Regions from separate parts of the Homo sapiens genome. Here regions 1, 3 and 4 are each linked to region 2. The links come from fine-mapping of genetic effects on gene expression. A gene starts in region 2. Each other region holds a variant in brackets. All regions are shown on one strand. Distances are from middle to middle.

Region 1 (6,301 bases), 790 kb before region 2:
GCCCCAAGGCAAATAGTCATCTATAAAAATATTACTTTAACAGTATTTTTTACTACTTTTATCCAGAAGGAAACAAAAAACCCTTCACATATTATGAAATAATATAAATCTGTTTTAAAATCTTAGGAAGTTCAATTTAAATATAGTTATGTGCCACATAATGACATTTTAGTCAATGATGGACTGCATATATGGTAGCATTTTCATTGATTATAATACCATATTTTTGCTATACCTTTTCTATGTTTAGATGCACAGGTACTTACACTTGTGTTACAAGTGCCTACGGTATTTAGAACAGTAACATGCTATACAGGTTTGTGGCCTAAGAGCAACAGGCTATACTGTATAGCCTAGGTGTATAGTAGGTATACCATCTAGGTTTGTGTACATGTGCTATATAATGTTTGCACAATGACAAAAAGGCCTAAGGACTCATTTCTCATAATGATCTCCTGCATTTAGTGATGCGTGACTGTACTTATGTGTAGAAATACACACATACACATCCTTAAATTGTAAACAAAACTCCTTAGTGTAAAAAAATAATGAACTGGTTAAATAAATCAATCCTGGCAAATCCATAGGATGGAATACCATGCAGCCAATTAAAATCACACCTTCAATGATTACTTAGTGATATAGGAAAATACTTGTAGCAAGTGAAATGGAAGATATAAAACTTTATATGCTGTTTCAATTTTGGAATAAAAATTTATGCATATAGAAAATATGGGTAGGAAATACATTACCATCCCAAGAATTTACTGACTCTTGATAATGAGATCATGCCTGTTTTCTTTTACTTTTCTGCATTTTCCAAATATTTTACGAGTGCATAATGCTTAAGTCAGCTGTGTGTGTGTGTGTGTGTGTGTGTGTGTGTGGTTCTGATCTAATACAGCTTGTATGTGTAGCTTAAAGTGTGTACATTTACAAAACATAGAACTGATAGTAAGTTGAGTCAATTGCTATGGGTAGTGTCACCCGAAACAGAAAAATTCTATTTAAATTCCAAGTAAATACTTGATAACAATTGGAAACCTAAAGAAGAGGGCATTTGTATGAAGTGTTTTCTAAACTTAAACTAGTAGAGAAAACCATGACTAGAGAGCAGCCCATGGAGGTTTTATTTTGGTATTCCAAGACACACACAAAAAATGTTGAATGTTTTAAACTTTCAAATACACACATTTGTCTTTAGTTCAAAGCCATACCTAGAGGAACCCTCAAAATACTTTTCATCTTCAAGTTTCGTTCTTTCATAATTGAAAGCTCTGAAGAATAAAAATATGTTTTGTTTTTGCTACATCTAATGTTACTCTTCTTTACTTGGAGAACAAAACATTAAATGTAGAGTAAAGTAAATGTAAAGTATGGCAACCACCAAACAGCTCTCAATTTTCTCCTCTAAAAAAAAAACATGGGAATTGTTCTTAAACAGGAAGCTGTTTCTCCTTGTTAGTATTCCATGCCCACGCATTACCCTGGTTCTGTGGAACTCCAGAGGCAACAAAGTCAACTTGCTATTTTAAAATACATGCATAAAATAAGCAAAATACACACATGTAAAAAAAAACGCATGAAAAATAACTTATTGAGGAAGGAACTTATAAACCTCAAAATATAGTTAAAACATCATACTCCTGCCAATAATAAATAATCCGTAATTTGAATAAAATAATTCATAATAAACAGTGACTGTGTATGTGTGTAAATTATCTCTAATGTACACCCTATGGATGTTTAATGAACACCAAAGTCATTAGTAATTCCCACTCCAGGGCAGTTAGCATCAGAAGATCATAATCAAGAGTCCACACTACAGAGATGGTTGTGTCATGCACTTCAAATATCACCATTATTTCTGTACAACAGGGTGAGTTAATTCGCGTAAGTAATGTTAAAAACAATCTTTGATAAAAATGAGTGGTATTTAAGAGAGGCGGTTTCCCAGAAAAATGATACAGGTATCTCTACGTTCCATGAACGAGAGTCCAGCAGCCCAATAGTCAAATAGCACACTAGGTCTCGAGTTTGCTTTAGCTGTGTGGCCCCCTTAACTGAGGACACCATCACCTGAGCAGAGCAGAAGGCTTTCTGATCCTACCACTATAATACTGTTGCATCTTCTAGGGAGTGAAGTTTTCCTTAAAGCTAATTGTTGGAGTAGCTTTTCCTTAAAGCTAATTGTTGAATTGAGTAGGAATTAACAAGTTGTTGACTAACTGCACTTGCATACTGATAAATGTATGGCAGTATTCAGATTATAACTTGTTTTCATTTTTAAAATGGGGAAGAGATCTATATCTTCCACTTATCCTCAATTTCTAGAAAGTACCAATATTTCTTTTGAAAGCCTGACGACTATAAAACTCAGCCCATGGGTCACCTTCTTGGTCAAGCTTTCTCTTTATGCCTCAAGTTGAAAAGACTACTTCTTACTTTATACCTCCCACTGTATCTGGTATTGTGTTTATTCTATCTTATTGCAGAGGGTTGATTTTTAAAAAAATGTTTGTCTTCCCCACTGATTTTGTGTTTCTTTACACATTGAAGTGTGGACTAGGGACCATGTAAACTTCATGGTAACTTCCTGCAACTTTCTAAGACAGGGTTTGTTAATATGTGTGGCTATGAATTTGACAGCAGCTCTGTGTTAAACATAAGGAAGGTGTGGGAGGATAAAAGTAGTAAGAAATTAGTATCACTAGAAATTCCTGAGAATGTCTCAAATCCTTTCCCATGGGCCTTCTTATCATTGGCACACCATTCAGGGATGCATACTTCTTAAGACTGCATTCTTGTGCAACTACCACAGGAGCCCAGCTCGGCAGGTGTGCCTGAAAATCACTTGGTTGGGCCACATCTGGAAAACACAGGCAATAACTTCATAAATATGTGAACACAACTCTTCTGAGCTATGACAACCCCACGAGCCATGTTTCCATGGGGGATAAATAGATTTGTAGCAATATTAATAAGCAAGATGTAGTCATCCGGGACAATTTGAAAGCAAACCTGCTACTAATGCATATTTCCTACAGTAATATTTTTCCCTACAACCTAGTTTTAACCTTGCTGTTCCAATAAGACCCCGTAAATCGAAGTTTCTTTAGCCCGTTAATTTAATATGAATATTCTATACCAAAGATAATATTGAGGAATACTGCTGAGAAAGCTGCAGAGCTGGAGAATGAACACTGCTTCTAGAATGTCTTATGTTATATAAGCTTCATTCTATAAATATGTTTGGCAGAAGTGTCATTCTGCATTAATTTTGCTACAATATGTGTTATTCTGAGGATCTGCAATAGTGGTGGCTTACAGATCCACTATATCAAAATTTCCATATTGACAGTTACAAGGGAGAAAATCTTAACGCCAAATAAACTGTTAAAAAAGATATAGTTTGGTGGTTACATA[T/G]GCAGTCTTATTTTAAATCTAATTAATTATTTTAAGAGACTGAAAATAAGTCTTTCCTGTTCTAAAGCTTTGACTTGTTTTTCATTTATTGTTCTGTTAGTCTAAAAAGGGAAACCTAACATTTTCTAACTGATGGACAGCAGTGAATTCCTTTTTACTGAAACACCCACACTTAAAACTTCTTGGCAGTTTTTAAGGTAGTGCTGGGTTAGGAAGAAGATGAGACTATGTCAACTTTACTAAGATGAACATCTGGCTTCTAGAGCCACCAAATGAAGGCAAAAATATAGGAGCTGAAAAATATTTTGTCATACAAAAGTTTTCCAGTGAAGAAATCTAATGGACAGAGAGTCTAGAAGCTTTAAGATATTTTAAATAATTCTATTTAATACTTCTATCTAATAAGAAAAACAGACTTTAAATTTTGTGTTTTTACATATGTGACCAAATATAAAACTTAAAGAAAAGAGTGTATTAAACAAAATATAGGAAATAGAATATATCAAACAATTCAGAATTTTGTCTTCAACTTAAGGAACATGTATTTAGCATCTATGTCATTATTGGAAGAAGTGCTGGGATATAAAGATGCTGATAATCTCTTATGATGCACGTATTCATCATCGTTTACTTCTGTTGTAAGTTAGTGAATGATTTTATTCTCATTGCTGTAGCATTACTATTACCACCAGAATTTAGCTTCTTTTTCAATGTAAAAATAAACTAAAATAGAGCAAACTTATTTTTATTCCTCCATATTTCAGAAAGCTCTAGGACAGCTGCTCTTAAATTTTAGTGTATACAATAATTACTTGGACAAGAGAACCTTACTGAGAAGAATAAGGATGGAACCAAAGAAATTACATTTTAAAATAAGGTAAGCAGAGGATAGAAACACAGGTGCTTTAAGAACCATCATTTTAGATATGTGGCCCTAGAACTGTAACAGCATCTATTTTTTTTTCCAAATACTATTCAGCTATAAGTGGTGTGTTGGAAAATGTTTAACACTTTGGTTTCAGTGTGGTGAAGCTGATTTGTAGTGTCTGCCTATTTTGTGGTGCAAATTCTCTCACCATGGCCAAAATCAAGTCATCGGGTTAAAATGATTGAACATCCAGCTGGGAAGTGGTGCTCAGTGTTATACCATTTTGTCCACCATGTAGAGTAGTAAAATGCAGTAACATGAATAGAAAGCGAAGTCTTGAGGATTTATTACCTTTAATTATAAGTAACGATTTTATAAAATTTGACTTTTAATCATGGCTACATTTTAACAATCAATCAAAAAACTGAAAACTTAATAACCATCTCCCAGAAGTCAATACAAACCAGTCCCAGCACAAACTGGCCATAAGAGTCATTTTATTTTGTCCACTTTACAACAGTCTGATATATAAGTAACAAATAAAGGAAGAGATTCTACTAGTTATTCTTATAGCTTTTGTTATAAGCAAATAAAATGAAATCAAAGTTATTTTTATATGCAATGAGTGTAAATAATTGTCTTTTCATTCAAACATCTTCTATACCTGAAAAATATAGTAAGTTATCAAAAAATACCAATGGAGGCAAAGCAAATTTGGGTCAGCAGGCACTGTTCTTACTAAATTTGAACAATGGAGGTTTAGTTATCGAGAAAAACATGACTTGAACTGAGGTCTGGCAGGGGGAGAAAGGCATTTCTGACTCAGGGGAATTTTTGGTGATGTGCTACTGTGTGTAGCTAGTTCTTAAACTCCAAACAGCATGTGTAGCAAAACAGTCTACAATGCACAGATTTGTGGTATTTCTAGGAACAGACAGATGGCTTATCTAGTACTTCCCAACTTTTACGGTAAGCAAGGAAAAACTATTTAAGAGGGGTGTTATCACCTTGCAGGGCCCTAGGACACCGCAGCATATTCTACCAGGGATTAACTAAAATTACCCAGGTTAAAAGAGTTAATATTTATTTTCCTGGCAGGATCTTACTCAGCCATCCATGTGCCATGCTGATAACAATTGTTACTATTGTAATAGTAAGGAAAATACAGGAGTAAAGTTCCTAGGGAACTGCCTAACTAGGAAGTTAGTAAAGGATCTGGACTCTGAATTTGATTTAAAGAAAGAGGAAAACACACGTTGGCTATAAAAGAAATAAATGAAATAACCATTGCTACAACCTTTTTAGCACGGGTACTGTCACGAACATATCTTCTAATGTTAATTAAATAAAATATTTTATTTTTCTACCTTTTGTACTGTCTTTAAAATCATCTTTGACACATGAGTTATTTATGTGGCTCGCTTAGGTAAGAATCTCTTGAGGAAGAGCTGAGATATCCTGGTTCCTTTTTCTGCTTCATTATGATTTGAATGCTTGCACCAAAGCTTCAAAAACAAGGTTGATCCAAATTGGTATTCAGGAAATTAAGTGTACTGTTCAATTCCTATAATTGAATTAGAAGCTGACTCTCTGGATTAGTTCTCTATATACTAGATAGAAAAAGGTTTTTGTGTTAAAAAAAACAAACTGTTACGGTTTACACTGGTGCTGAAAAGAAAGTTGAGAATTCACCACTGGCAAGCATATTACTTGAAAATAAGATTTTCTCAAAGTCTCTATATTTCTGCAAATATTCTAGAGCTAATTCCCACATATAAACTGAGAGTACATTCAGAGGTAAATTTTCAAACTCTATTGATTCTATTGTTTCAGGCTCCTCTCACCTCTCATCTCACAACTCTTCGAACACACAACCCTGCTTGCCTGATCTCTCTGCCTCGCTATTACCCCTTCCCCACGTTGCCAACTCACCTCTATGTTCCCCTCCCATTCTGGCTTATTCTCATTTGGGAGCTGATTAATTTCCAGAAAAGTATCAGCTGATTA
Region 2 (6,301 bases):
TAAGAGCCAGAAATCAAGCTCATGTCCAAAAGACTGTAAAAGTCATGCTACTTCTACATGAAGTTGTGGGGTGGAGTGAGGAGGGGTGGTAAATAGCCAAGAAGAAGGAGAAAAAGAAAGAAATTTACAATTTTATCAAATAACAGTGAAATATATATATATAAAACATGTATTATGTTCCACATATGTTCCATATATAATACGCAGTTAAGATGTATACATGTTTAACATATACTTAAGCTGCATATTTAGTATGTGTATATATGGAACAAAAAGTTGAAGAAACAAGTATCAAATTGTTAAGTGGTCATCTGAAAGTGGACTCATAGGAAACTCACTTATTGCCTTTTATACCCTCCCAGATTTAATTCTAAATAACTTTTTTTTGACTTTTTATTACTCTTATAACCAGAAAAAGACAAAGAACTATTCTAGCTTAGATCTTTTAAATGAGGCTAAATGCACAGAAACCCATGCAAGTTAAAAATGGTCTACTTTCGAATTTATTTTTCTAAGTACATCATCCTTTACACTCTCCATGATTCCTAATATTAGGTCCTTCTTATGGAACAACTACAAAAGTTATCCTCATCTAATTATTATACTCGTACACTGGAAAATGACTATAACATTATTCATTATAGGAAACAAATCATCAAGGTCAGCCATCCTTGTAAGTTTATTACTGAAAGTACTAGAAAGGCGGAATAATAATTCTGTTCTCCCACAACACTGTATAGACCTGCAAACCACTATGATCAGTAGTACAGGGAAAGTCTTGTAAATTAACATGTAACTATTGAGAAAATCCACAAAACTGGTGAAAGGCCTACCCCAAAACAGCCATCTCCAATACAATCTCATCATTCTCACCATCCTACTTTTATCAAAGTGCTGATAAAAGTGCGTAGCACATGGTAAGAGAGAATTAGCTATTGAATCAATGAAGGAACCCATTATCAATAAACAATCACTTCCTGTTTTCCATAAATTATGTGGTCACCTATCACTTGAGCACAAACAAATAGGCACGTTCAGGACACAGGCAGCCAGTATCAGAATAGGCAGCCTATCACAGAGGGCAATTCTACTTTTCCTGTGTAAGAATCCAAGAATGCAGTTTTACTACATTCCTGCTTGTAGCTAATCTGAATTTCAACTAATTTAAAACGGTTATTTATATGTGACATATAGGATGCATAATGAGCTCCCAACCTTGTGAGAGGAGCTGTGTTTCATTTCACCATACAGGGGAGAGGGAAGCAGTGTATTAAAGAAGTGATAGAAAAGTCCCACAGAAGAACCAATGAAATAGACCACACTGAAAATCACAGTAAGCCTCAGAGAACTTCAGTGTCCTTTTTGGCAACTTTTCAAAAGTGAATGGAATGCTTGCCAGGAGGTACCAAGAGTGAAAGCCCAGAGAAAAAGGCCCAGCCTGGTCATCTCTCTCCCCTCAAAACATCTTCTTCTGTAAGCTTGAGAGATCCCAAAGAACTTCAACACTTGTAATCTTGTTACTAACTTTATGCTTTGGGGTCCTAAAGGATTTTTTCAGGAGTACCCTTTTAAAATGTAAACATCCCTAGGGGGGTTACTGTTCATTATCAAACAGGACCTGGATTCTTTAGTGCTATGGTCTCAGGGATTAGTCAAAGCTGGCTAATAAGATAGGGGCCGGAGACAGACAACTAGAGAGGACCAATGTTCCAAGGTAAAAACAGGTAAAGGGGAAGTGCAGTTTTCTGTCGGGTCAAGGGGCTAAAAGGGATCCACATGCCCAAGCTGTTAAACTCTATAGACTGTGTGAGGCTGAAAACAGTCCGGGGCCTGGAGCCTGTGACTTTGAAGGTGGGTCCTCCAGTTCCCGATGAAAAGGTAGAATCTGGGCCCAAGTTCCCCACGAGCAGTTCTGGACATCTAGCCCTTCTCTCTCTCGCTCGCTCTCAGGATAAAGTCCTAGGTCCTTCCACCCCTGACCATTCCTTACTTACCCTTTCTCCCGCTCTTCCTCGGTGAGAAGGGGTAAGTGGTTATTTTGTGCCCTCGCCCAATTTGGCCAAAACCCTAAAAGTAAAAAACGACAGACAGACACGTGCTTTAAAATCATGTTGTTCAAGCCTGACGCTCTCCCACCACCTGCCCAACACTTCCAGGCAGAAGGCAGCGCGCCCCCACAGCGCTCCCTCACGGCCAGAGCCGGGGGCCGGACTAGGCCCCTTTGTGAGGACTGGGAGAGGGCGCGTTGTTGGGGCGCCGGCTCGGCGGGGAGGAGCGGGCCAGCTCCGGGCCAGGTGTGCCGCCTGTGGCGCCGGTTTCTCAACCTAGTTAGCCAGTGGCACCAAGAAGAGGACTAGGCTGGGGTGGCCGCCGCACGCGCCTCAGATAAACACGCGCACGCACACATGCTCGCGATCACGCAGGACTCGCGGCCGCGCACCCCTCCGCCTCCCGGCAACGCCCGCCCCGCCGGGGCCGGGGCCGACTCCCAGGGAAGGGTCCCCAGCCCAAGAGACCACCAAGGGTCGGCGGCTACGCGCCCGCCGACCCCTGCCAGCCTCACAGCCCCCCACCCGCCGCCGGACGCCGGGCGCCCGCCCTCCGCACCCGCTGCGCAGCTCAGCCCGGGGGAAGTCCCCGCGCAGACCCCGCCCTCCGCCGGCGGCAAGCTCCGCCCCGCTGCCCCGTCGCGCGCTGGCCGCCCGAAGCTCCGCCCCCGGCGGAAAACTGGTCTCTGGACCGCCCGCCCAGGTCGGGCTCAAAATGCGGCGTGGATCTGAAAGGATCAAACACAACACTAATTCAGCAAGCTATTATTGAGCACTTGCCCTAAGCTCAGCAACGTACTAATGGGGGAGACTACAATAAAGAGCCGAAAAGTCTATGAAACTGTGTCTTCAGCTCTTCCTCTTGTTTTAGAAGCCAGGAAACAGAGAACCCTCACAGTTACTTAAGTACAGGGCAGTAGTGGCAAAGCACCTCACTAGCGATCTCTGGGCAACTCTTCATTTCATTTTTTCCTACTCATGAGCACTCAGGAAAACTATTCAGTTTTGCTGCCTCCAGGTAAAACAAAGTGAGTAACACAGGACAGGCGGTTTACTTGAGAGAAACGGGAATTTCATACTGAAGCTTTTGCCCTCAAATGGTACAAACTCTTTTTTTTTTTTTCCTGAGACGGAGTCTCGCTCTGTCGCCAGAGCGACACTGCAATCTCCGCCTCCCGGGTTCACGCCATTCTCCTGCCTCAGCCTCCCTAGTAGCCGGGACTACAGGCCCCCGCCACCATGCCCGGCTAATCTTCTTGTATTTTTAGTAGAGATGGGATTTCACCGTGTTAGCAAAGATGGTCTCCATCTCCTGACCTCGTGATCCGCTCACCTAGGCCTCCCAAAGTGCTAGGATTACAGGCGTGAGCCACTGCGCCCGGCCGAATGGTACAAACTCTTAACTGGGTTATTACAACCTACAAAGAAACCTTCTTATCCATGTTATTAATTATCCTAATTCAATGTGGTTTAAAATGTTGATGAAAGTACCCAAATCATGGTGCTCCAACAAGCTGGATGCCAACCAGGTACTCGTAAGTACTTGCAATTACAGGTGCGATATTTTCATTCCATATCATCCCAAGATGCCCTTCCTTCACGTGAAGCAGCCAGAAAGATCAACTACCAGATTCCGCATGATTGAGGAATTGATAAATAGAAAGGGAAGACCGAAACCGGCCAAATTTTCCCTTCGAAGTGAAACTTGAGAAACTTGCGTGCATTTTACCTGAGTTCCTTTCTCAGCAGATAAACTGTCAGACCTCCCAGATAGTGTCAAGGAAATGCAACTTTCCAGAACACTACATCTGGACAATGAGGTGCATCTGCTGCCTGTTCACAAACTCCTCTTCCTTACCCCTCCATAATTCCCTGCTATAGAAAGCCCTAACTTTAGTCTCCCTAAGACATGTTTGAGACTGGTCTCCCTGCCAGCATCACCTGCATTAAAGCCTGTCTTCCCTGGCAATACTCGTTGTCTCAGGGACTGGTTTTCTTTGCTAGGAGCAACCCAACCTAGGCTGAAGCCCAGGCATTTAGCAGCAGTGGCACCTAGAAATACTGAACAGACATAAAATACTTTTTTTCTCCTTTTCTTACTCCTCCAGTTGTATCTTCATTATTTCTGTCTCTATTCTCCCTCTAGATACTGCCAAACTACTCTGTGCACTTTCAGATCACTTAATACTAATGTAAATAACAGACATTCTGGCACTCTTGGTTCAAAATTTATTCTAAAGGTTTAAGAATCTACTCAGGGTCTTAAATAGCCTGATAACTAAAATTCCAAGAGTTTCCTAAAGAGAGCAAAATTGCTCTCCTGTGAAGGGGATATGTCCCAGTTTTTCTTACTTGTCACTGAAATAATTACTGCAAAGTAAGCTCTTTTCGGCCAGTGCTTAAGGACTTAATTTCAAGAGCACTTAGGTGACAGGACCACCCTCATCAAATAGCAGTCAAGAACTATTTGGTACCATGACCCCAAATTGAATGGAGCTCCTGGTCACTAGGAACTGACAGTCTGGGATGGAATGTAGGTGAATAAACAACAAAGACAGGTGTTTATGGCCTTTATTGTATTGGGAAGTCAATAAACATACAAAAAGAGTTGCTAGGTCTGGCCTGATTTTATCACTAAGATTCATCAAGTGTACTTAAAAAGAAGCTAATATCTGGAAAGGGCAGAACTATGGTATATTAGTCAGGGTTTCCTAGAGGGACAGAACCAATAGGATAGACATATAAATATAAAGAGGAGTTTATTAAGTATTAACTTACATGATGACAAAGTCCCACAATAGGCTGTCTGCAAGCTTGAGGAGCAAGAGAGCCAGTCCGAGTCTCAAAATTGAAGAACTTTGAATCCGATGTTTGAGGGCAGTAAGCGTCCAGCACAGGAGAAAGCTGTAGGCTGAGAGACTAGGCCAGTCTCTCCTTTTCATGTTTTTCTGCCTGCTTTATATTCACTGGCAGCTTATTAGATGGTGCCCACCCAATTAAAGGTGGGTCTGCCTTTCCCAGCCCACTGACTCAAATGTTAATCTCCTTGGCAACACCCTCATAGACACACCCAGGATCAATACTTTCTATCCTTCAATACATTCAAGCTGACACTCAGTATTAACCATCACATATGGAGACAGTAAAAAGATCAGTGATTGCCAGAGGTCACAGAGGAGGGGGATATGAAGCACAGATTTTTAGGGCAGTGAAACTATTCTGTATGATATGATAATGGTGATGCATGTCATTATACATTTGTCCAAACCCATAAAATATACAACCCAAAGAGGGAGCCTTAATATAAAATCTCAACTTTGGGTGATAATGATGTCAATGTAAGTTCATCAATTGTAACAAATATACTGCTCTGGTACAGGATATTCATAGTCAGGGAGGCTGTGCAGATGTGGGGTACAGGAATATATAGGAACCCTATACTTCCTGCTCAATTTTGCTCTGAACCTGAAACTGATCTTTGGGAGAAAAAAGTTTATGAGAAAAAGAAGCAGCAGTTAGAGCATCCTATTTTATTCTAATTTATCAATTAAATTCTAAGCTGAATATTTGGCTTTATGTATCTAGTTCAAATATATTTGCCTTGTCTCCTTATATATTAAAGCAGACCTCTATTTGTTGTTAATACCATCAGGGGAAAATGAATCATAAAGTCCTAACTAAGGTACAAATTTAAACTATAGTTAGGCATCAAATCTAATGGTCAAAGAGATATTTAAACAAAGTTAAAATAATTAAGTTTACAGATTCCACAAATATAGATATTAAAATATATTCCTATCTATACATACTTACCATTGGTAAGCAAATAATAGAAGGTATCATAGAGTAGCAGTTCTCAAACTACTTTTTGATCTCAAGTTCTCTTTACATTCTTAAAAATGATTGAGAACTTTAAAGAGCTGTTGTTTATGTGGGTTATATATGTCCATATTTACTGTATTAAAATTTAAGATAGAAAAATGTTAGACATGTGTTTGCTTAATTTAAACCCATTACATGTTACTGTAAAAGTTATTTTTATAAATAATGACTACTTTTTTTCCAAAAAATTAGAGAAAAGTGGCATTTTTAACATTTTATAAATCTCTTATTATCTGGCTTAAGGAGAGCACTGGATTCTCATATTCTGCCTCTGCATTCAGGCTGTTGTGATATGTTGTTATACCTAAGATATGAAGAAAATTAACTGTCATACGAATTCATAGTTGAAAAAGAGAGGACCTTACAAAGCT
Region 3 (6,301 bases), 350 kb before region 2:
AGGGGGTGGGTCCCTAGCAAGGCCCCACCTTCAAGCTGGGGAGGGCCTGAAGCCCTCCAGGGGCCAGGCTGCTGGTCGTGCAAACCAGAATGGGAACTTGTGGTACCTTCCAGCCCTGCCTATGGCCACCCTTGGACAAACTGGTGCACACTTCCTCCCCTCTGAGGCCCACAAGAACCCCAGACTCACCCAGACTCAAGAAATCGATGGAACCACTAGCTGTAGGGAGGAGTTACCCATTCCAGGCTCTCCTCTCTGCTGAGAGCTAAAGAGATGACAGTATGACCAGTTGTGGAGAGGAGCTACCCACACCAGAGTCTCCTATCTAATGAGCGCTGAACATTTGAAGGAATGACCTGCCTGCGGAGAGCTATCCAACGTGGGTCTCCTCGGAGCTGTTCTGTTGCTCAATAAAGTTCCTCTTTGCCTTGTTCATGTGACAGTCCTACAAATGTACCCCCTGTATCTAAGATAAAAGGTGATTTAAAAAAATAAGACCCAAGTCACATGAATAGTGAAGAGCTATAAGTATTCATACATTTCTAATGTAAAATATATGATGGTTAACTTTGGTAAACTTGAGGGTAGAAATATATTTTTAATACACAATAAATCAATTAAATAGGCAGGTAATGATTTTATCTTGAAAAAAATTATAAAACTTCATCATCTGTTCCCTTTTACTATCCAGTCCCTTCCAAGGGTATCTTCTCTTGCTTATTTAGAAAATCTGTGTGAAACACTCAAAACAAATTTCATGTTTATATCTTACTAAAATTAGAGAAATAAAATCAATCACTTTGAGTCCTTCTATGCTTTAATTAAATGTATCCTCTTAGCAAATTTGTTTTTAATCCAGTGAATGAATGACAAAGTAATTTTTCTTCTTTTTTTTTTTTTTTTTTTTTTTTTTTGAGACAGGGTCTCTCACTCTGTCACCCAGGCTGGAGTGCAGTGGCATGATCTCTGCTCACTACAACCTCCGCCTCCTGGGTTCAAGTGATTCTCCTGCCTCGGCCTCCCTAGTAGCTGGAATTACAGGCACCTGCCACCAAATCTGTTTTTTTTTTTTTTTTTTTTTTTAATGTAGTAGAGACAGGGTTTCAACACGTTGGCCAGGCTGGTCTCAAACTTCTGACCTCAGGTGATCCACCTGCCTCAGCCTCCCAAAGTGCAGGGATTACAGGTGTGAGCCACCATGCCTGGCCAATTTTTTTTCAAATTTATGTTAAATCTCACCTAAATAAAATATATGATATTAAGAATGTTCAGCATCTTGTTCAACATTTAAACAAACTCTAGTACATACTGTGTAGATTATCCAGAGCTCCATAACCATGTAAAAAAAAAAAAGAGAGAGAGATAGAGATTAAAGTAGAACATTCAAAATACAGCCACAGGCCAGATCTGGCTCAAAGACTTGTTTTGTTTGACACATACCAGCGCAGCAAAATTGTTTTCTGATGAAATGCTTACATGTATAAATGAAAAACTTCACAGAAAAACTCCAAACTTAAGTCTCCTCCTTAGAAAGAAAAACAAAAATCAAAAACCAGTTCTTGCAAAACTATGCCCTCATTCCCACATATCACCGCAATCTACATACTTTAAACTGTGAATTCAGATACCAGTTTGCCATAGTACCCATCACTCCTTATATTTACCATTGGTTAAAAGTGTCAATGGTTGCAACCACACAGAGACATTATATATGTACAAGAAAAAAACAAAAACAAAAATAGAAGTACTCTTTCCTAAGCACTGTAAGTACTTTCCAGATCATCTACATGAGCCATTCTATTCATTGGTGAGCCTCCCATGCATACTTATGATCATACCCTTCTGCCTGAAGAAGTGTCTTACTCAGAATCAAAAAGTTGCTAAGTAACAGTATTACACTCGAATCTGAATCTGACCCAAAATCCAATGTTTTTCCAGCTTCTGCACAGTTAATACAGCTAGCAAATAAGTAACAATTATTTTTCCCAAACAAGAATCATGAAGATATTCTAGCCTATTTGAATATAGCTACTTTTATATTACAAGATCAAATTTACTACACATAACAGGCAAAACATGGAAGGCACCCATTTAGTCTAATTTCAAAAAAGATATACATTCTCTCCTTCCTGAATTTTGTCTTATTTCTTTCAATAATAAAAGAAAGGTTAGATACAAAAAGTATCAGATCACCCACAAATAGGCACTTAAAAAAGAAAAGTATGTCAATCATTGGGTAAGCTTTAGAAGGAAACTGTGGCAAAACATTAATTTTCTCCTCTTTCAGAAACTTCTTTGCTCAAATTCTACTTTCATTCTTTCTAATATAAACCTGAGGCTGGCTCTTACACAAAACTGTTGAAGTCATTCTTTTGTTCCTTCTTCATTTCTCATCTGTAAATGTGCTCATCAACTTGTCAACCAGGCTGTTAGAATTTGTATTTAATCTTCACATTCCCTCTCAGCTAAAATTTTCTCCCATTCTTTAATCATTTCCTATCTTGATTACTATAATTTCTCTTTTATTGTCCTCTTGAAATTCATACTTGTTAAGTCATGTATGGCCAGAATATATACTAAAATAACATTTCCTTCCAACTGTCTTTCTCTTCACAAATACATCTTCATTCTCTCTTGGAAAATTCCAATTTGCCTTTGGATCATTCCAGATACCTCACCGTAATTATCTTCTCTGTCACTAGAGTATGGAGTCACATACATCACCAATTTTGTCATCTCACTTTCCTTTGAGGAGGTCCCAAGTAGATATTCATTGAGATAGTCTCTTCTCAAGAGCACTGTTTTAAAATGTTCCCTGTCAAGCTGGATAGCAAGAAACAGATGAAGGATTAACTATATCAGTATTTTATTTCTTTCCTAGAAAAAGAGGGAATAGTTCAAGATACATTCCACATCTTAAACTTGCTTTGAATTTTAGTTTTGGAATATATTTTTATCACAAATTGTCAATTTATGACTGCATAAATTTATGGCGTACAAAGTGATGTTATGATTTATGAATACAATGTAGAATAATAAAGTCAAGCTTGTTAACACATCCATCACCTCAAATATTTCCATTGTTTTGTGGAGAGAACATCTGAAATTTATTCTCTTAGCAATTTTAAAATGTACAGTACTCTATTATTAATTATATTCACCACACTGTGCAATAGAACTAAAAAGAAATACCATATTCCTCCTGTCTACCTGAATTTTGTACCCTTAAAGTGGAATTTTCAAATAAATGGTTTCTCAGATTCTAACATTTTTGGCAAAAGATGAGACATCCAATTATATCATATGAGGCACTAACAAATGCAAATAGACTACCCATATAATCAAAAGAATAACATTTAAGGCAATAAGCCCTTCAACTTCAGAAGGCTTGGCTTTATGACTATATTCAGTCAATCACATAACCATTTTGAAGTCTTGCAGTGGATAAAATAACACCTTTGAAGGGTGGGGGAAAAGAAAAAGAGACATTTTATCAAATGCATGCAAGTGATTTTGCCCATATAAATACTTGAAATAAAACCCTAAATGGCACATTTTAATTTTCCCTTTGGAATTTTCTGGAAAAAAAATTGCCAGTGTAAATTCTTATCAAAGACATTCCTCATCTTCTGATCTCTCTCTCTCTCCCTCC[GTC/G]TCTCTCTCTCTCTCTCTCTCTCTCTCTCACACACACACACACACACACACACACACACACAATATGCAGTGGAGTTAAAATGTTCCTGGTTAGGAATATTTTTCTCTGTTCTGCAATCTGTAGTAATTCTTTATCTTAAAGCTAGCTCTCCTTTTGGTGTTAGAATGGTGGCCAGGAGCCTAGCAGAATAGAAGGAGAATCAATTCAAGAAACTCTCCCAGTGAGAATAAAGGAAGACCTGTCCAGGGAGGCACCAGCACTACTCCTAATATCAGTCCGCTTAAGTGGGTACCTGACCCTTTTCACATGAAACAAGAAGTGGTAAGAAAGATGGTGTTCACCTTAGACTAATAAAGCCCACTCATGGAGCTTGGATTAGGGTCAGCTTCTCCTGAAGCATTTAGCCTACAGCAGAGCAGAGTAGCTACATGAAGAAACTAGGATATACTGTAAGCAAAGGAATAAAGGGATATCAATGCTGAGTACAGCTAATAACGTCCGTTGAGTCAGAAAGAGAATTGTGACAGAATTATCCAATCTCCTTTACTTTATCTTTTATAAACAATAACAAAACTAGTATATTTTATATTCTGATTAGAAGCAAATTACAATAGTTTCAGGTAATCCTTTACCTCAAAATTATGATACTAAACAATAATCAATATGAATGAAATTCTAATACAAGGAAGAAAAACTGCCTGACATGAAATAACTATCAATCATCTTCCCTATATATTCTAGAAATCTTATTTTTAATATAAAAATTAAGTTTAGTATTTTTGGCAAGATTAGATCTCTACTATGAATTGAAAGTCTTCGGTATCTCTCTGGAGGTGGGTGTTAGAATCAACAGGAGCAGTATTTTCATGTTCTTCACTTTTCTTTTCAAAATAATGAGCTACGGAAAATGCTATTGCCTTTTTGTGCTTTCATAAGAAGTAAAAATCAAAGGATTCTATGATGGACAGAAAATTTGAATCCTAAGGAAAATAATAAAATCTTCTCTCTTTATTCACTCTTTCCCTATATATGAATTGTTTAGCTTAGCATTTATGGTCTTAGTAAACAAATAGCAAAATATAAACAAGTGTCCCAAGTATCTGCTCTGTTCTGAAGTTTTCTTATGCAAGACATCACCAGACCTGGTAAACCAAGGTTTTACAAGTCTTACCAATTTCTGTGCACTTCCTTTTAAACTTTTCAATTCTTATAAATGTCATATTTCTTATGAAAATTAATGTCTTCCTCCTGAAAGAGCTGCAAATAAAGAATGCATGTACCTATGCTATTATGTTGTATCGCCTACATTTAATAAAACACAAGTGGAAACTTTCACCATATTTTCAAAAGTTTTATCAGTTTTTTTTTTCCCATTACAATGTTAAAGAGAAATGCACCAATAAACCCCAGGCAACGTAAATAAAACGTTCCCCATATGATCTTAAAAGAAATCACAGAAATATCCAAGGCTATACACTCAGCTAGATCTAAAATATTTTCGTTAACCTAAAGACAGTTGTGAAAGTCTCGAGATGGGAGAACTCCAATTAACCTAGTTCATTACCAATAAGGCTTTAATTCAGTCAGGTACTAAAATAGTTGTTTTTTCTGATTAATTATTTCAGGCTGACCAGTTATAGGCCAGGGCTACGTACATCAATGTCACTCACTTGGTTAGAAATGACATCAGTGGAAATTACTTTCCCCATGAACAGTTCTGATATCTGAGCCCCTGACTACAGCCAGTTATTACAAAAGTATAATAAATCTTGAAAATCAAGGGCCTGCCTCTTCTAATACAAAATAATAAATACTTTTCTTAAAATCCCAGAGTTCTGCTTAAAATATGAAATAACAAATACATCCACAACTTAGAATATCTATACAAGATCAAAATTCATCTATGTTGAGCCACTAAAACTTGTGAAGGAGTGAAAACAGGGCATGAAATAGAGGTATTAAGCTAGAAAGAAAAAGACTACGTGGCTAACAAAATCAACTATTGATGTATGTTATACTATTTGGGTTTAGCTGTTTAGCTGTTAACCATCACAAGTTATTTTTACATGGAAATTTCTAACTTACTCTACTTTGAAATGCCAAATTACTAAAAAATTTTAAAAGCCTCTTTTTGAAATCTAGAATAATGACCCAAATACAGTAAAGTCATAACTTTTTTTCTTTGTTTGAGGCACTATTTCTAAAAGTGTAATCCTAAGACCACCTGTGATGATCAATATGCTGATGTTCAGACTGTTCCCAAGACCTAATAAACCAGAATCTCTGGAAATAAGGCCTAGGACCCTAAATTTTAAACAAATAATGCAGGTATTAATATTTCTGCATTGGTTTGAGCTATTGTATTTGCCAGTGGATAAATTTTAAGTAAACAGGGCTAGCTAAACATAAAAATTAGCTCTAATGATATCATAAAATTAATTCACATATTATTCAAATTAAGTGAGTCTCTATTTTTGCTTACATATTTTATTATGATTTCTTAGGATGCATTATCTTATGAAATAATGAAATCACATCTAATTTAATATGGCTGTCTTTTTGCCTTAGCTGTCAGTATTCTATGATCTCAAATCACTGTTTGGTTGAATCAAATTCAACTGCAATAATTAAACAGTACCACTAATT
Region 4 (6,301 bases), 150 kb before region 2:
CTTTTACCGACTATGGTTTAGTGAGTTTCACATGTGCTTACACAGCTCATTTTTAGTTACTTACTAGACAATGTGCAATGGTGTACTTTTATAAAAATTTCAAAGGTCTCAAGAAATGGAAATACTCAAATTTAAAGGATTTATCTGTTATCTCTGAACTCTCTTTCTCTGCTTTTACTGCTCCCAAGTATACAGGCACCACGAACACAGAGACCAGCTAAAAGTTCAGGAACAGAAAATTCCAACTACATCATCTTAACAAATAACCCCACACATTATAGTTTAAAAATAGCATATTTGAAAAAAATGCACTAAAAATTATTATTAGAACTTCACACTCAAATCTCTAAAAAGTTATGAACATTTTATATTGTAATACACATAAATTCTAAAGAATATCAAAGTATAATATCAGAGAAACAATATGTGTAAGATTATAAAAGATTAGAGTATTATCTGTTTGGATTTTTACATGAATTATTTATGCACTTAAAAACATAGTTGAAGTGAGGAGAAACATAAATGATAACCTAATCACATTCTCTGAGTTTCCCTCCTAGGTCACTGGCTGCTCCTTCTCATTTTCCTGACTCCCATTATTCCTAACCTCTAAGTGTTGGACTACCCTAGGAGGGGTATAGGACTTTTGTCTTTCTCTATTCACTGTCTAGGTCACAGGTCAGTAAACTCTACCTGCAGACCAAATGTAGCTTACCACCTATTAATTTTTATAAATAAAGTTTTATTGGAACGCAGCCACACCCATTTTCTTAATTATTGTCTACAGCTCCTTTCACAATACAAGGTAAAAATTGAATAGCTGCAACAAGGACTAGATAGTGCTTCTGATCCTTTACAGAAGAAAAATTGCCAATCTCTGTCTAGGTGATCTCACTAAGGTGCATAGCTTTAAATATAATGTATATCCTGAAAATTACCCAAATTCTATCTTCAGTCCTGACTCAGATATGAATGACAACTTCTCTACATTATATTTGGATGTCTTATAGGCATACAAATTTAACATGTCTAAAAGGTAAAATTTGCTTTCTACCACCCCTGCCACTCCTTTGCCTCTTGTATCTCAATACACAATTTCCATTCATCCAATTGCTTAGGCCAAAAACTTCAGAATCCTCCTTGATTCCTCTATTTCTCTCATACTCCATATCCCAGCCATCAAAAAAGTACATCTTTAAAATATATCCAGAATCTGGCCACTTCTCAGCCACTCCAATGCTACCACCCTAACTCAAGTCACAACCATTTTCACCTGGACTATTGTAGTAGCCTCCTTACTGGGTCCCTATTTCTGTTCTTGGTCCCTTACACTCAATTTTTACAGAGCATCTAGAGTGATCATGGAATTCCATTACTGAAAACACTTCAAAAGCCATGCAAGGTGTGGCCTCTTGTTATATTCTACCTTTCCTCCCTCTTACTGACTCTGGTCACTCCCCACATGGTCTTTTACTGTCAAGCATGGTCCTGCCTTAGATCTTTGCATTTGCTCTTCTGTCTGGAAAAGTTTCCCCCAACTTATCTAGGTGGTTTAATTCCTCATTTTATTCAGGTCTCTGATCAAAGATTACCTCAAGTTAGAGGTCTTCCTTAATCACTCTCTCTAAATTAGTGACTCCTATCAATTCTATATCCCTGTTAATAGGTGGATTCCCTAGAAAACAGGCTCTAAGATTCTGGGATTTGCATGCATTTTGGGGAGTGCCCTTAGGAACAACATCTGAAAGGGAGTGAAGGAAGCAGGACAGGCAGAGAAAGAAGCTGAATTGCAGTGTGGTTCTAACAGAGGTTTAAGCCACAGGAACCTCTGCAGTGGGTATAGTTTTTGAAAATTATCCCACATGAGGAAAAGAGACAGGGTCTTTGAGCCGACATATACATAATGAAATTCCCAGTATCCCCAGAGTTGGGGTGTAACCTTGAGTAAGACACATAAATATGTGTTTTAGGGAAATGCAAATTAAATCCAAAATAAGATACTACTTTACACACACTAGGATAGCTAAAATCAAAAAAGATAAAAAATAACAAATGTTGGTGAGGTTGTGGGGAAAATAGAACCCTCATACACTGCTCATGGGAATGTAACATGGTACACACAGCAGCTCCGGAAAACAGGTTTGGCAGTCTCTTCAAAAGTTAAACATAAATATATCACACAACTCAGCAATACCATACCTAGAAATCTGCCTAAGAGACATGAAAACATATATCTACGGAAAGAATTATAAAAGCATATTCATGGTATTATTCATAATACCTAAAAGCAACACAACATAAAAGTCTAGCAAATGGTGTGTGGATTAACAAAATGAGGTGCATCTAAACAAAAAATAATATTCAGCAAAAAAAAGAACAAAATACAGATACATACTGTAACATGGATGAACCTCAGAAACATTACACTCAGGGAAAGAAGCCAACACAAAAGACCATTTATTGTGTGATTCTTTTTAAATGAAATATCCAGAAGGGGAAAATCAATAGAAATACAAAATAGATTACTGGTTGCCTGGAGGTAGGGGTAAGAAATAACAGTAAGTGCAAATGGCCATGGGGAGTATTTTCAGGATGATTAAAACATTCCAAAATTGGATTACAGTGATGGCTGTACAACCCTATACATTCACTATATCATCAATTTCTATACTTAGCATGAGTGAATTTTATGAAATGTAAATTACATATAAATAAAGACATAAAAAAGAAAAATAAATATTACTGGCTGATTCTTAAATTGACTAATAATAATGGTGACAATAACTACTACTCACTGAAAATTTGCTTAGGTTCAAGAATTGTTCTGAGTGCTTCATTTGTATTAACTCATTTAATCTTCAACACAATCCTACGAAGCAGGAACTATTTTATTCCTATTTCAGAGATGAGATAACTCAGGCATGGGAAAATTAAATAGCATGCTCAAGGTCATAGAACTAAATATATATTAATTAACTTATAAAAATAAAACATTCTACCTTAAATGCTAAGCAACAGCACTTATCTAAAACAAACCAAAAAAGTAGAAGATAATACCATATGTGTACATACATGGTAAGTTCCCTGTAAGTAGCGTATTTAAGATTTTCCAATAAGTGACCAACTTGCAACACTTCTGATTATCTGTATAGCCATTGAAACAAGTAATAAGTATAATATTTATTATAAGACAGCTTGGCCAGTACTTGGTGCATATTCAGTGAGAGACTTAATTACTGTAGACAAATATAAAGAATGCTCATGATCTAATCTACTGAATCACTATGTTCATACAGACACAGAAATATCACTATGGGTACACATAAATACAACTTTATTCTGCAACAGTCACGCATAAACACACACACAAACTCTAAGTCACACAATCTCTATAATAAAGATTTTTCTAGTGCATCAT[A/G]TCACAGAACTGCAAGCATATCATTTTGTTCCTGTAACTGAAATGTACAATGGGACAAGATGAGATGACAGTGTGTTTTATCTTTTTCATATGAAAGTTCAGTAATAAATTTCACATGGCAGTAAGCCAATATGAATGAAATACTTGGAGATACTAACTTCTCATGTATCTACCAATAAAACACTCTCAAATTTACAGATACCCCTAGAAAAGACAGCTGATAACCACATTGTATGTAGTTAATATTTTTTTTAAATATGAAGGCATATAAATGATCAGCAAGCCTGACATTTAGATATTTGACAACAATGTATTTTAAGCAGTCTAATAAAACACAAAGCACAGATGTAGAGGAAGGAAGATATGTAACTAAAACCACATTCACCTTCAATTCCTTTGCAGACTAGCACTGAAAAACCTACATCAGCACTTTCTGTCTAGATGATATATTGATACAAAGCTAGAATAAAAATGGTGATAAAAAGTACCATTTGTAATTGAAAATAAATGTTGCTAAGTGCTGACAAGCTTCTGTCAGTTAAATTGTTTTTATTTAGAAATATTTTGCATTTCCTCTATTATTCTTAAGAAACTTTGTAATTAATTTTTGTTCCAAATAATGTTTTTGTGTATTGATTACACAAACTAGTAATATTTACATTTAAGACATCCATTTAAAGTTGAAGAAACCATTTCATAATAGAAAGCCAATTCCTACCCTTAATTCTCTTAAAATTTAACGTCCACCTAGAAAGCAATGCATCAGTAATAAATTTATGATTCAATATGGTTATCAGCCCACAGCTAAAAATTTGCAGATCTGTATAACCAAGCATATTAAAAGTCCCCATGGATAACATATAACCATGAGTAACTCTCATAATTCAACATGCACTACAGTAAGAACCATTACAACTGCATGTTTTCATTGTTAGGTCCCAATCCATTTTTAAAAGAAGCTGTACATGTACATCACCAACTTGCACATACATGCAAGTAAAATTAAATTACCTAAAGGGTATCTTCTGAAAAACCTGAGAGTTTTTTTTAAGACATCAGTATAACCTTGGTTAAATAATCTTATGGTCTCTATATAAAGATTTGAAATTTCTGAAAATAAAAACATACAGTAACATAAAGCTTGCTTCTAAGAGTAGCCAGATTCAATATTCAGATTTAGAAAAATTACATTCATTAAATTTAAGTGAAACAAATAATTATGCTGAACTTCTACAGGATTGCCCTCAAAATCCTATACATAACTAGAAAAGTGGACAAAATATATAAAGCTATTTCAGATAGTGGACCAATGGCAGAAGAGGCATGTGATTATTAACAAAAGGGAAACAAATCAGGTGATATCTAAGACTGCCCCTATTCCAACCTAGATGCAAAGTCCAAACTGTGGTATAAGAATGGGGAACTCAGAGCCTCATGGTCCAAATAAGTTGAGAAACAGATTAGAGTTTGAAGACACTGGGATGGCTGGAATTTGTGGGACATATTAAAGATAAAAAGAACGCTATGCAGAGATTGGCATAAGAATACTCATGAGGCTTTGAATAGGAATCTGTGCTGCATAGGGTGAAACTCCAAGCAGCCAAGTGAAAAATAGCAGGAAAAGATCAATTTCAGGGGAGTTATAAAGTGAACAATTCCAAGAATGAAGAGCCCTTGTTGTTGAATACCCAGAGTATTCTGTAGAGACTCCAGAAAGCTCATGCCTTAGTAGTGAGTCTAAACTAGCTCTAAAGATTACCCTAGATCATCCTTGAAAAGCACAAAAATAGCCTTGAAATGAGCAGGCTGATCTGCAAATAATTTAAATGCCTACCAAAAAAGTGGAGGGTGGTGGGGAGAGAGACCATTTAAAAGAAAAACCAAAATGTAATTAGTACTACATTAGTAACCAAAAAGAAAAACCAATGTAAATTAGTATGTACATTGTTCAAATTCAGCTGAACAATGTAAATACTAATATTCAATGCCTAACAGTGAAAAAAAAAATTAGAGACAGACAAATAAAAGGGAGGAAAATGTTGCCCACAACTAGGAGAAAAATCAGTCAATAAAAACAGATCCAATTAACAAAGATAACAAAATTAACATTAAAAGGCCTTAAAACAGCTATTAAAATAAGTTCAATAAGATTAAAGACTTAAAGGAAATATGAACATAACGAGAAGACAAAGAGAACATATTGAGAATCACCAAATTAAGTGTCTAAATATTTAAAAATATTTTTGATACGAAAATGTTGCAGATAAGACACTACAGAAAATATCAGTGAAGCTGGAAACATAGCAACATAAATTATTTTAAACAAAGTATGAAGGAAGAAAATATTTTAAAAATAAACAGTCTTGGTAACATGTGAGGGCAACAACAATCTAACATTTTTATAATTCAAGCACTAAAATAAGAGGAAAGAGGTCAAGAAAATATTTAAAGAAAACATGCCCCCAATTTTTCTGAATTTAATAAACAATATCAGCCTACAAATCCAAGAAGTTCAACAAAGCCCAGGAAGAATAAAGAAAAACCATGACATGATATAATCAAATTGCTAAAAAAAAAAAAAAAAAGTAACAAAGAAAAAAATCTTAAAAGTACCCAGAAAAAAAGGCACATAATATAGGAGTAAATATAATAACACATGTCTTGTCAGAAATTATGCAAGCTGGAAGGAAATGGAATGACATTCTTAGAGTGCTGTTAGAAAAAAACTGTGAGACTAAAAATCATACAGCCAGATCAAATATTTTTCAAAAATGAACACAAAGGCAAAGATGTCATTACCGATATACCCAGGACCTAGCCAAAGCCCACAACACCCCTGAAATTCTCAAGATCAAGTTCAAAAAAAGGGGTCCCCGTGAAAGT

Direction of the effects. Alleles are on the strand shown, and positions count from the first base shown. SD is a standard deviation of normalised expression in the study named. Not every link is listed here.
With allele G in place of GTC in region 3, the expression in monocytes of the gene that starts at base 2,636 in region 2 is lower (moderate effect, 0.52 SD a copy in CEDAR).

What was found. PIP is the estimated chance that this variant, and not a neighbour inherited with it, causes the effect. A credible set is the group of variants that fine-mapping cannot tell apart.
Region 1: its variant is the best candidate, but not a certain one, in a credible set for the expression of IMMP2L in CD8 T cells (Kasela 2017, PIP 0.74).
Region 3: its variant is the best candidate, but not a certain one, in a credible set for the expression of IMMP2L in monocytes (CEDAR, PIP 0.86).
Region 4: its variant is the best candidate, but not a certain one, in a credible set for the expression of IMMP2L in whole blood (INTERVAL, PIP 0.63).

What each region holds. Positions count from the first base shown.
Region 1 is chr7:110,774,395-110,780,695 of GRCh38, forward strand. All of the region lies in intron 5 of IMMP2L (inner mitochondrial membrane peptidase subunit 2), which reads right to left. Among named protein-coding and RNA genes, the nearest start is that of LRRN3, 310 kb to the right of the region's middle. The variant T/G (reference allele first, on the strand shown) is at 3,427.
Region 2 is chr7:111,559,857-111,566,157 of GRCh38, forward strand. It overlaps IMMP2L (inner mitochondrial membrane peptidase subunit 2), which reads right to left and starts at 2,636. Exons shown (of 6, transcript NM_032549.4): 1 at 1,995-2,636. RefSeq lists a silencer at 2,168-2,797.
Region 3 is chr7:111,213,445-111,219,745 of GRCh38, forward strand. All of the region lies in intron 3 of IMMP2L (inner mitochondrial membrane peptidase subunit 2), which reads right to left. LOC124901725 (a long non-coding RNA gene) reads right to left here. Exons shown (of 2, transcript XR_007060477.1): 1 at 1-6,301. Among named protein-coding and RNA genes, the nearest start is that of LRRN3, 130 kb to the left of the region's middle. The variant GTC/G (reference allele first, on the strand shown) is at 3,653.
Region 4 is chr7:111,405,105-111,411,405 of GRCh38, forward strand. The region is part of intron 3 of IMMP2L (inner mitochondrial membrane peptidase subunit 2); the gene reads right to left. It also overlaps the pseudogene LOC100420226. Among named protein-coding and RNA genes, the nearest start is that of IMMP2L, 150 kb to the right of the region's middle. The variant A/G (reference allele first, on the strand shown) is at 3,419.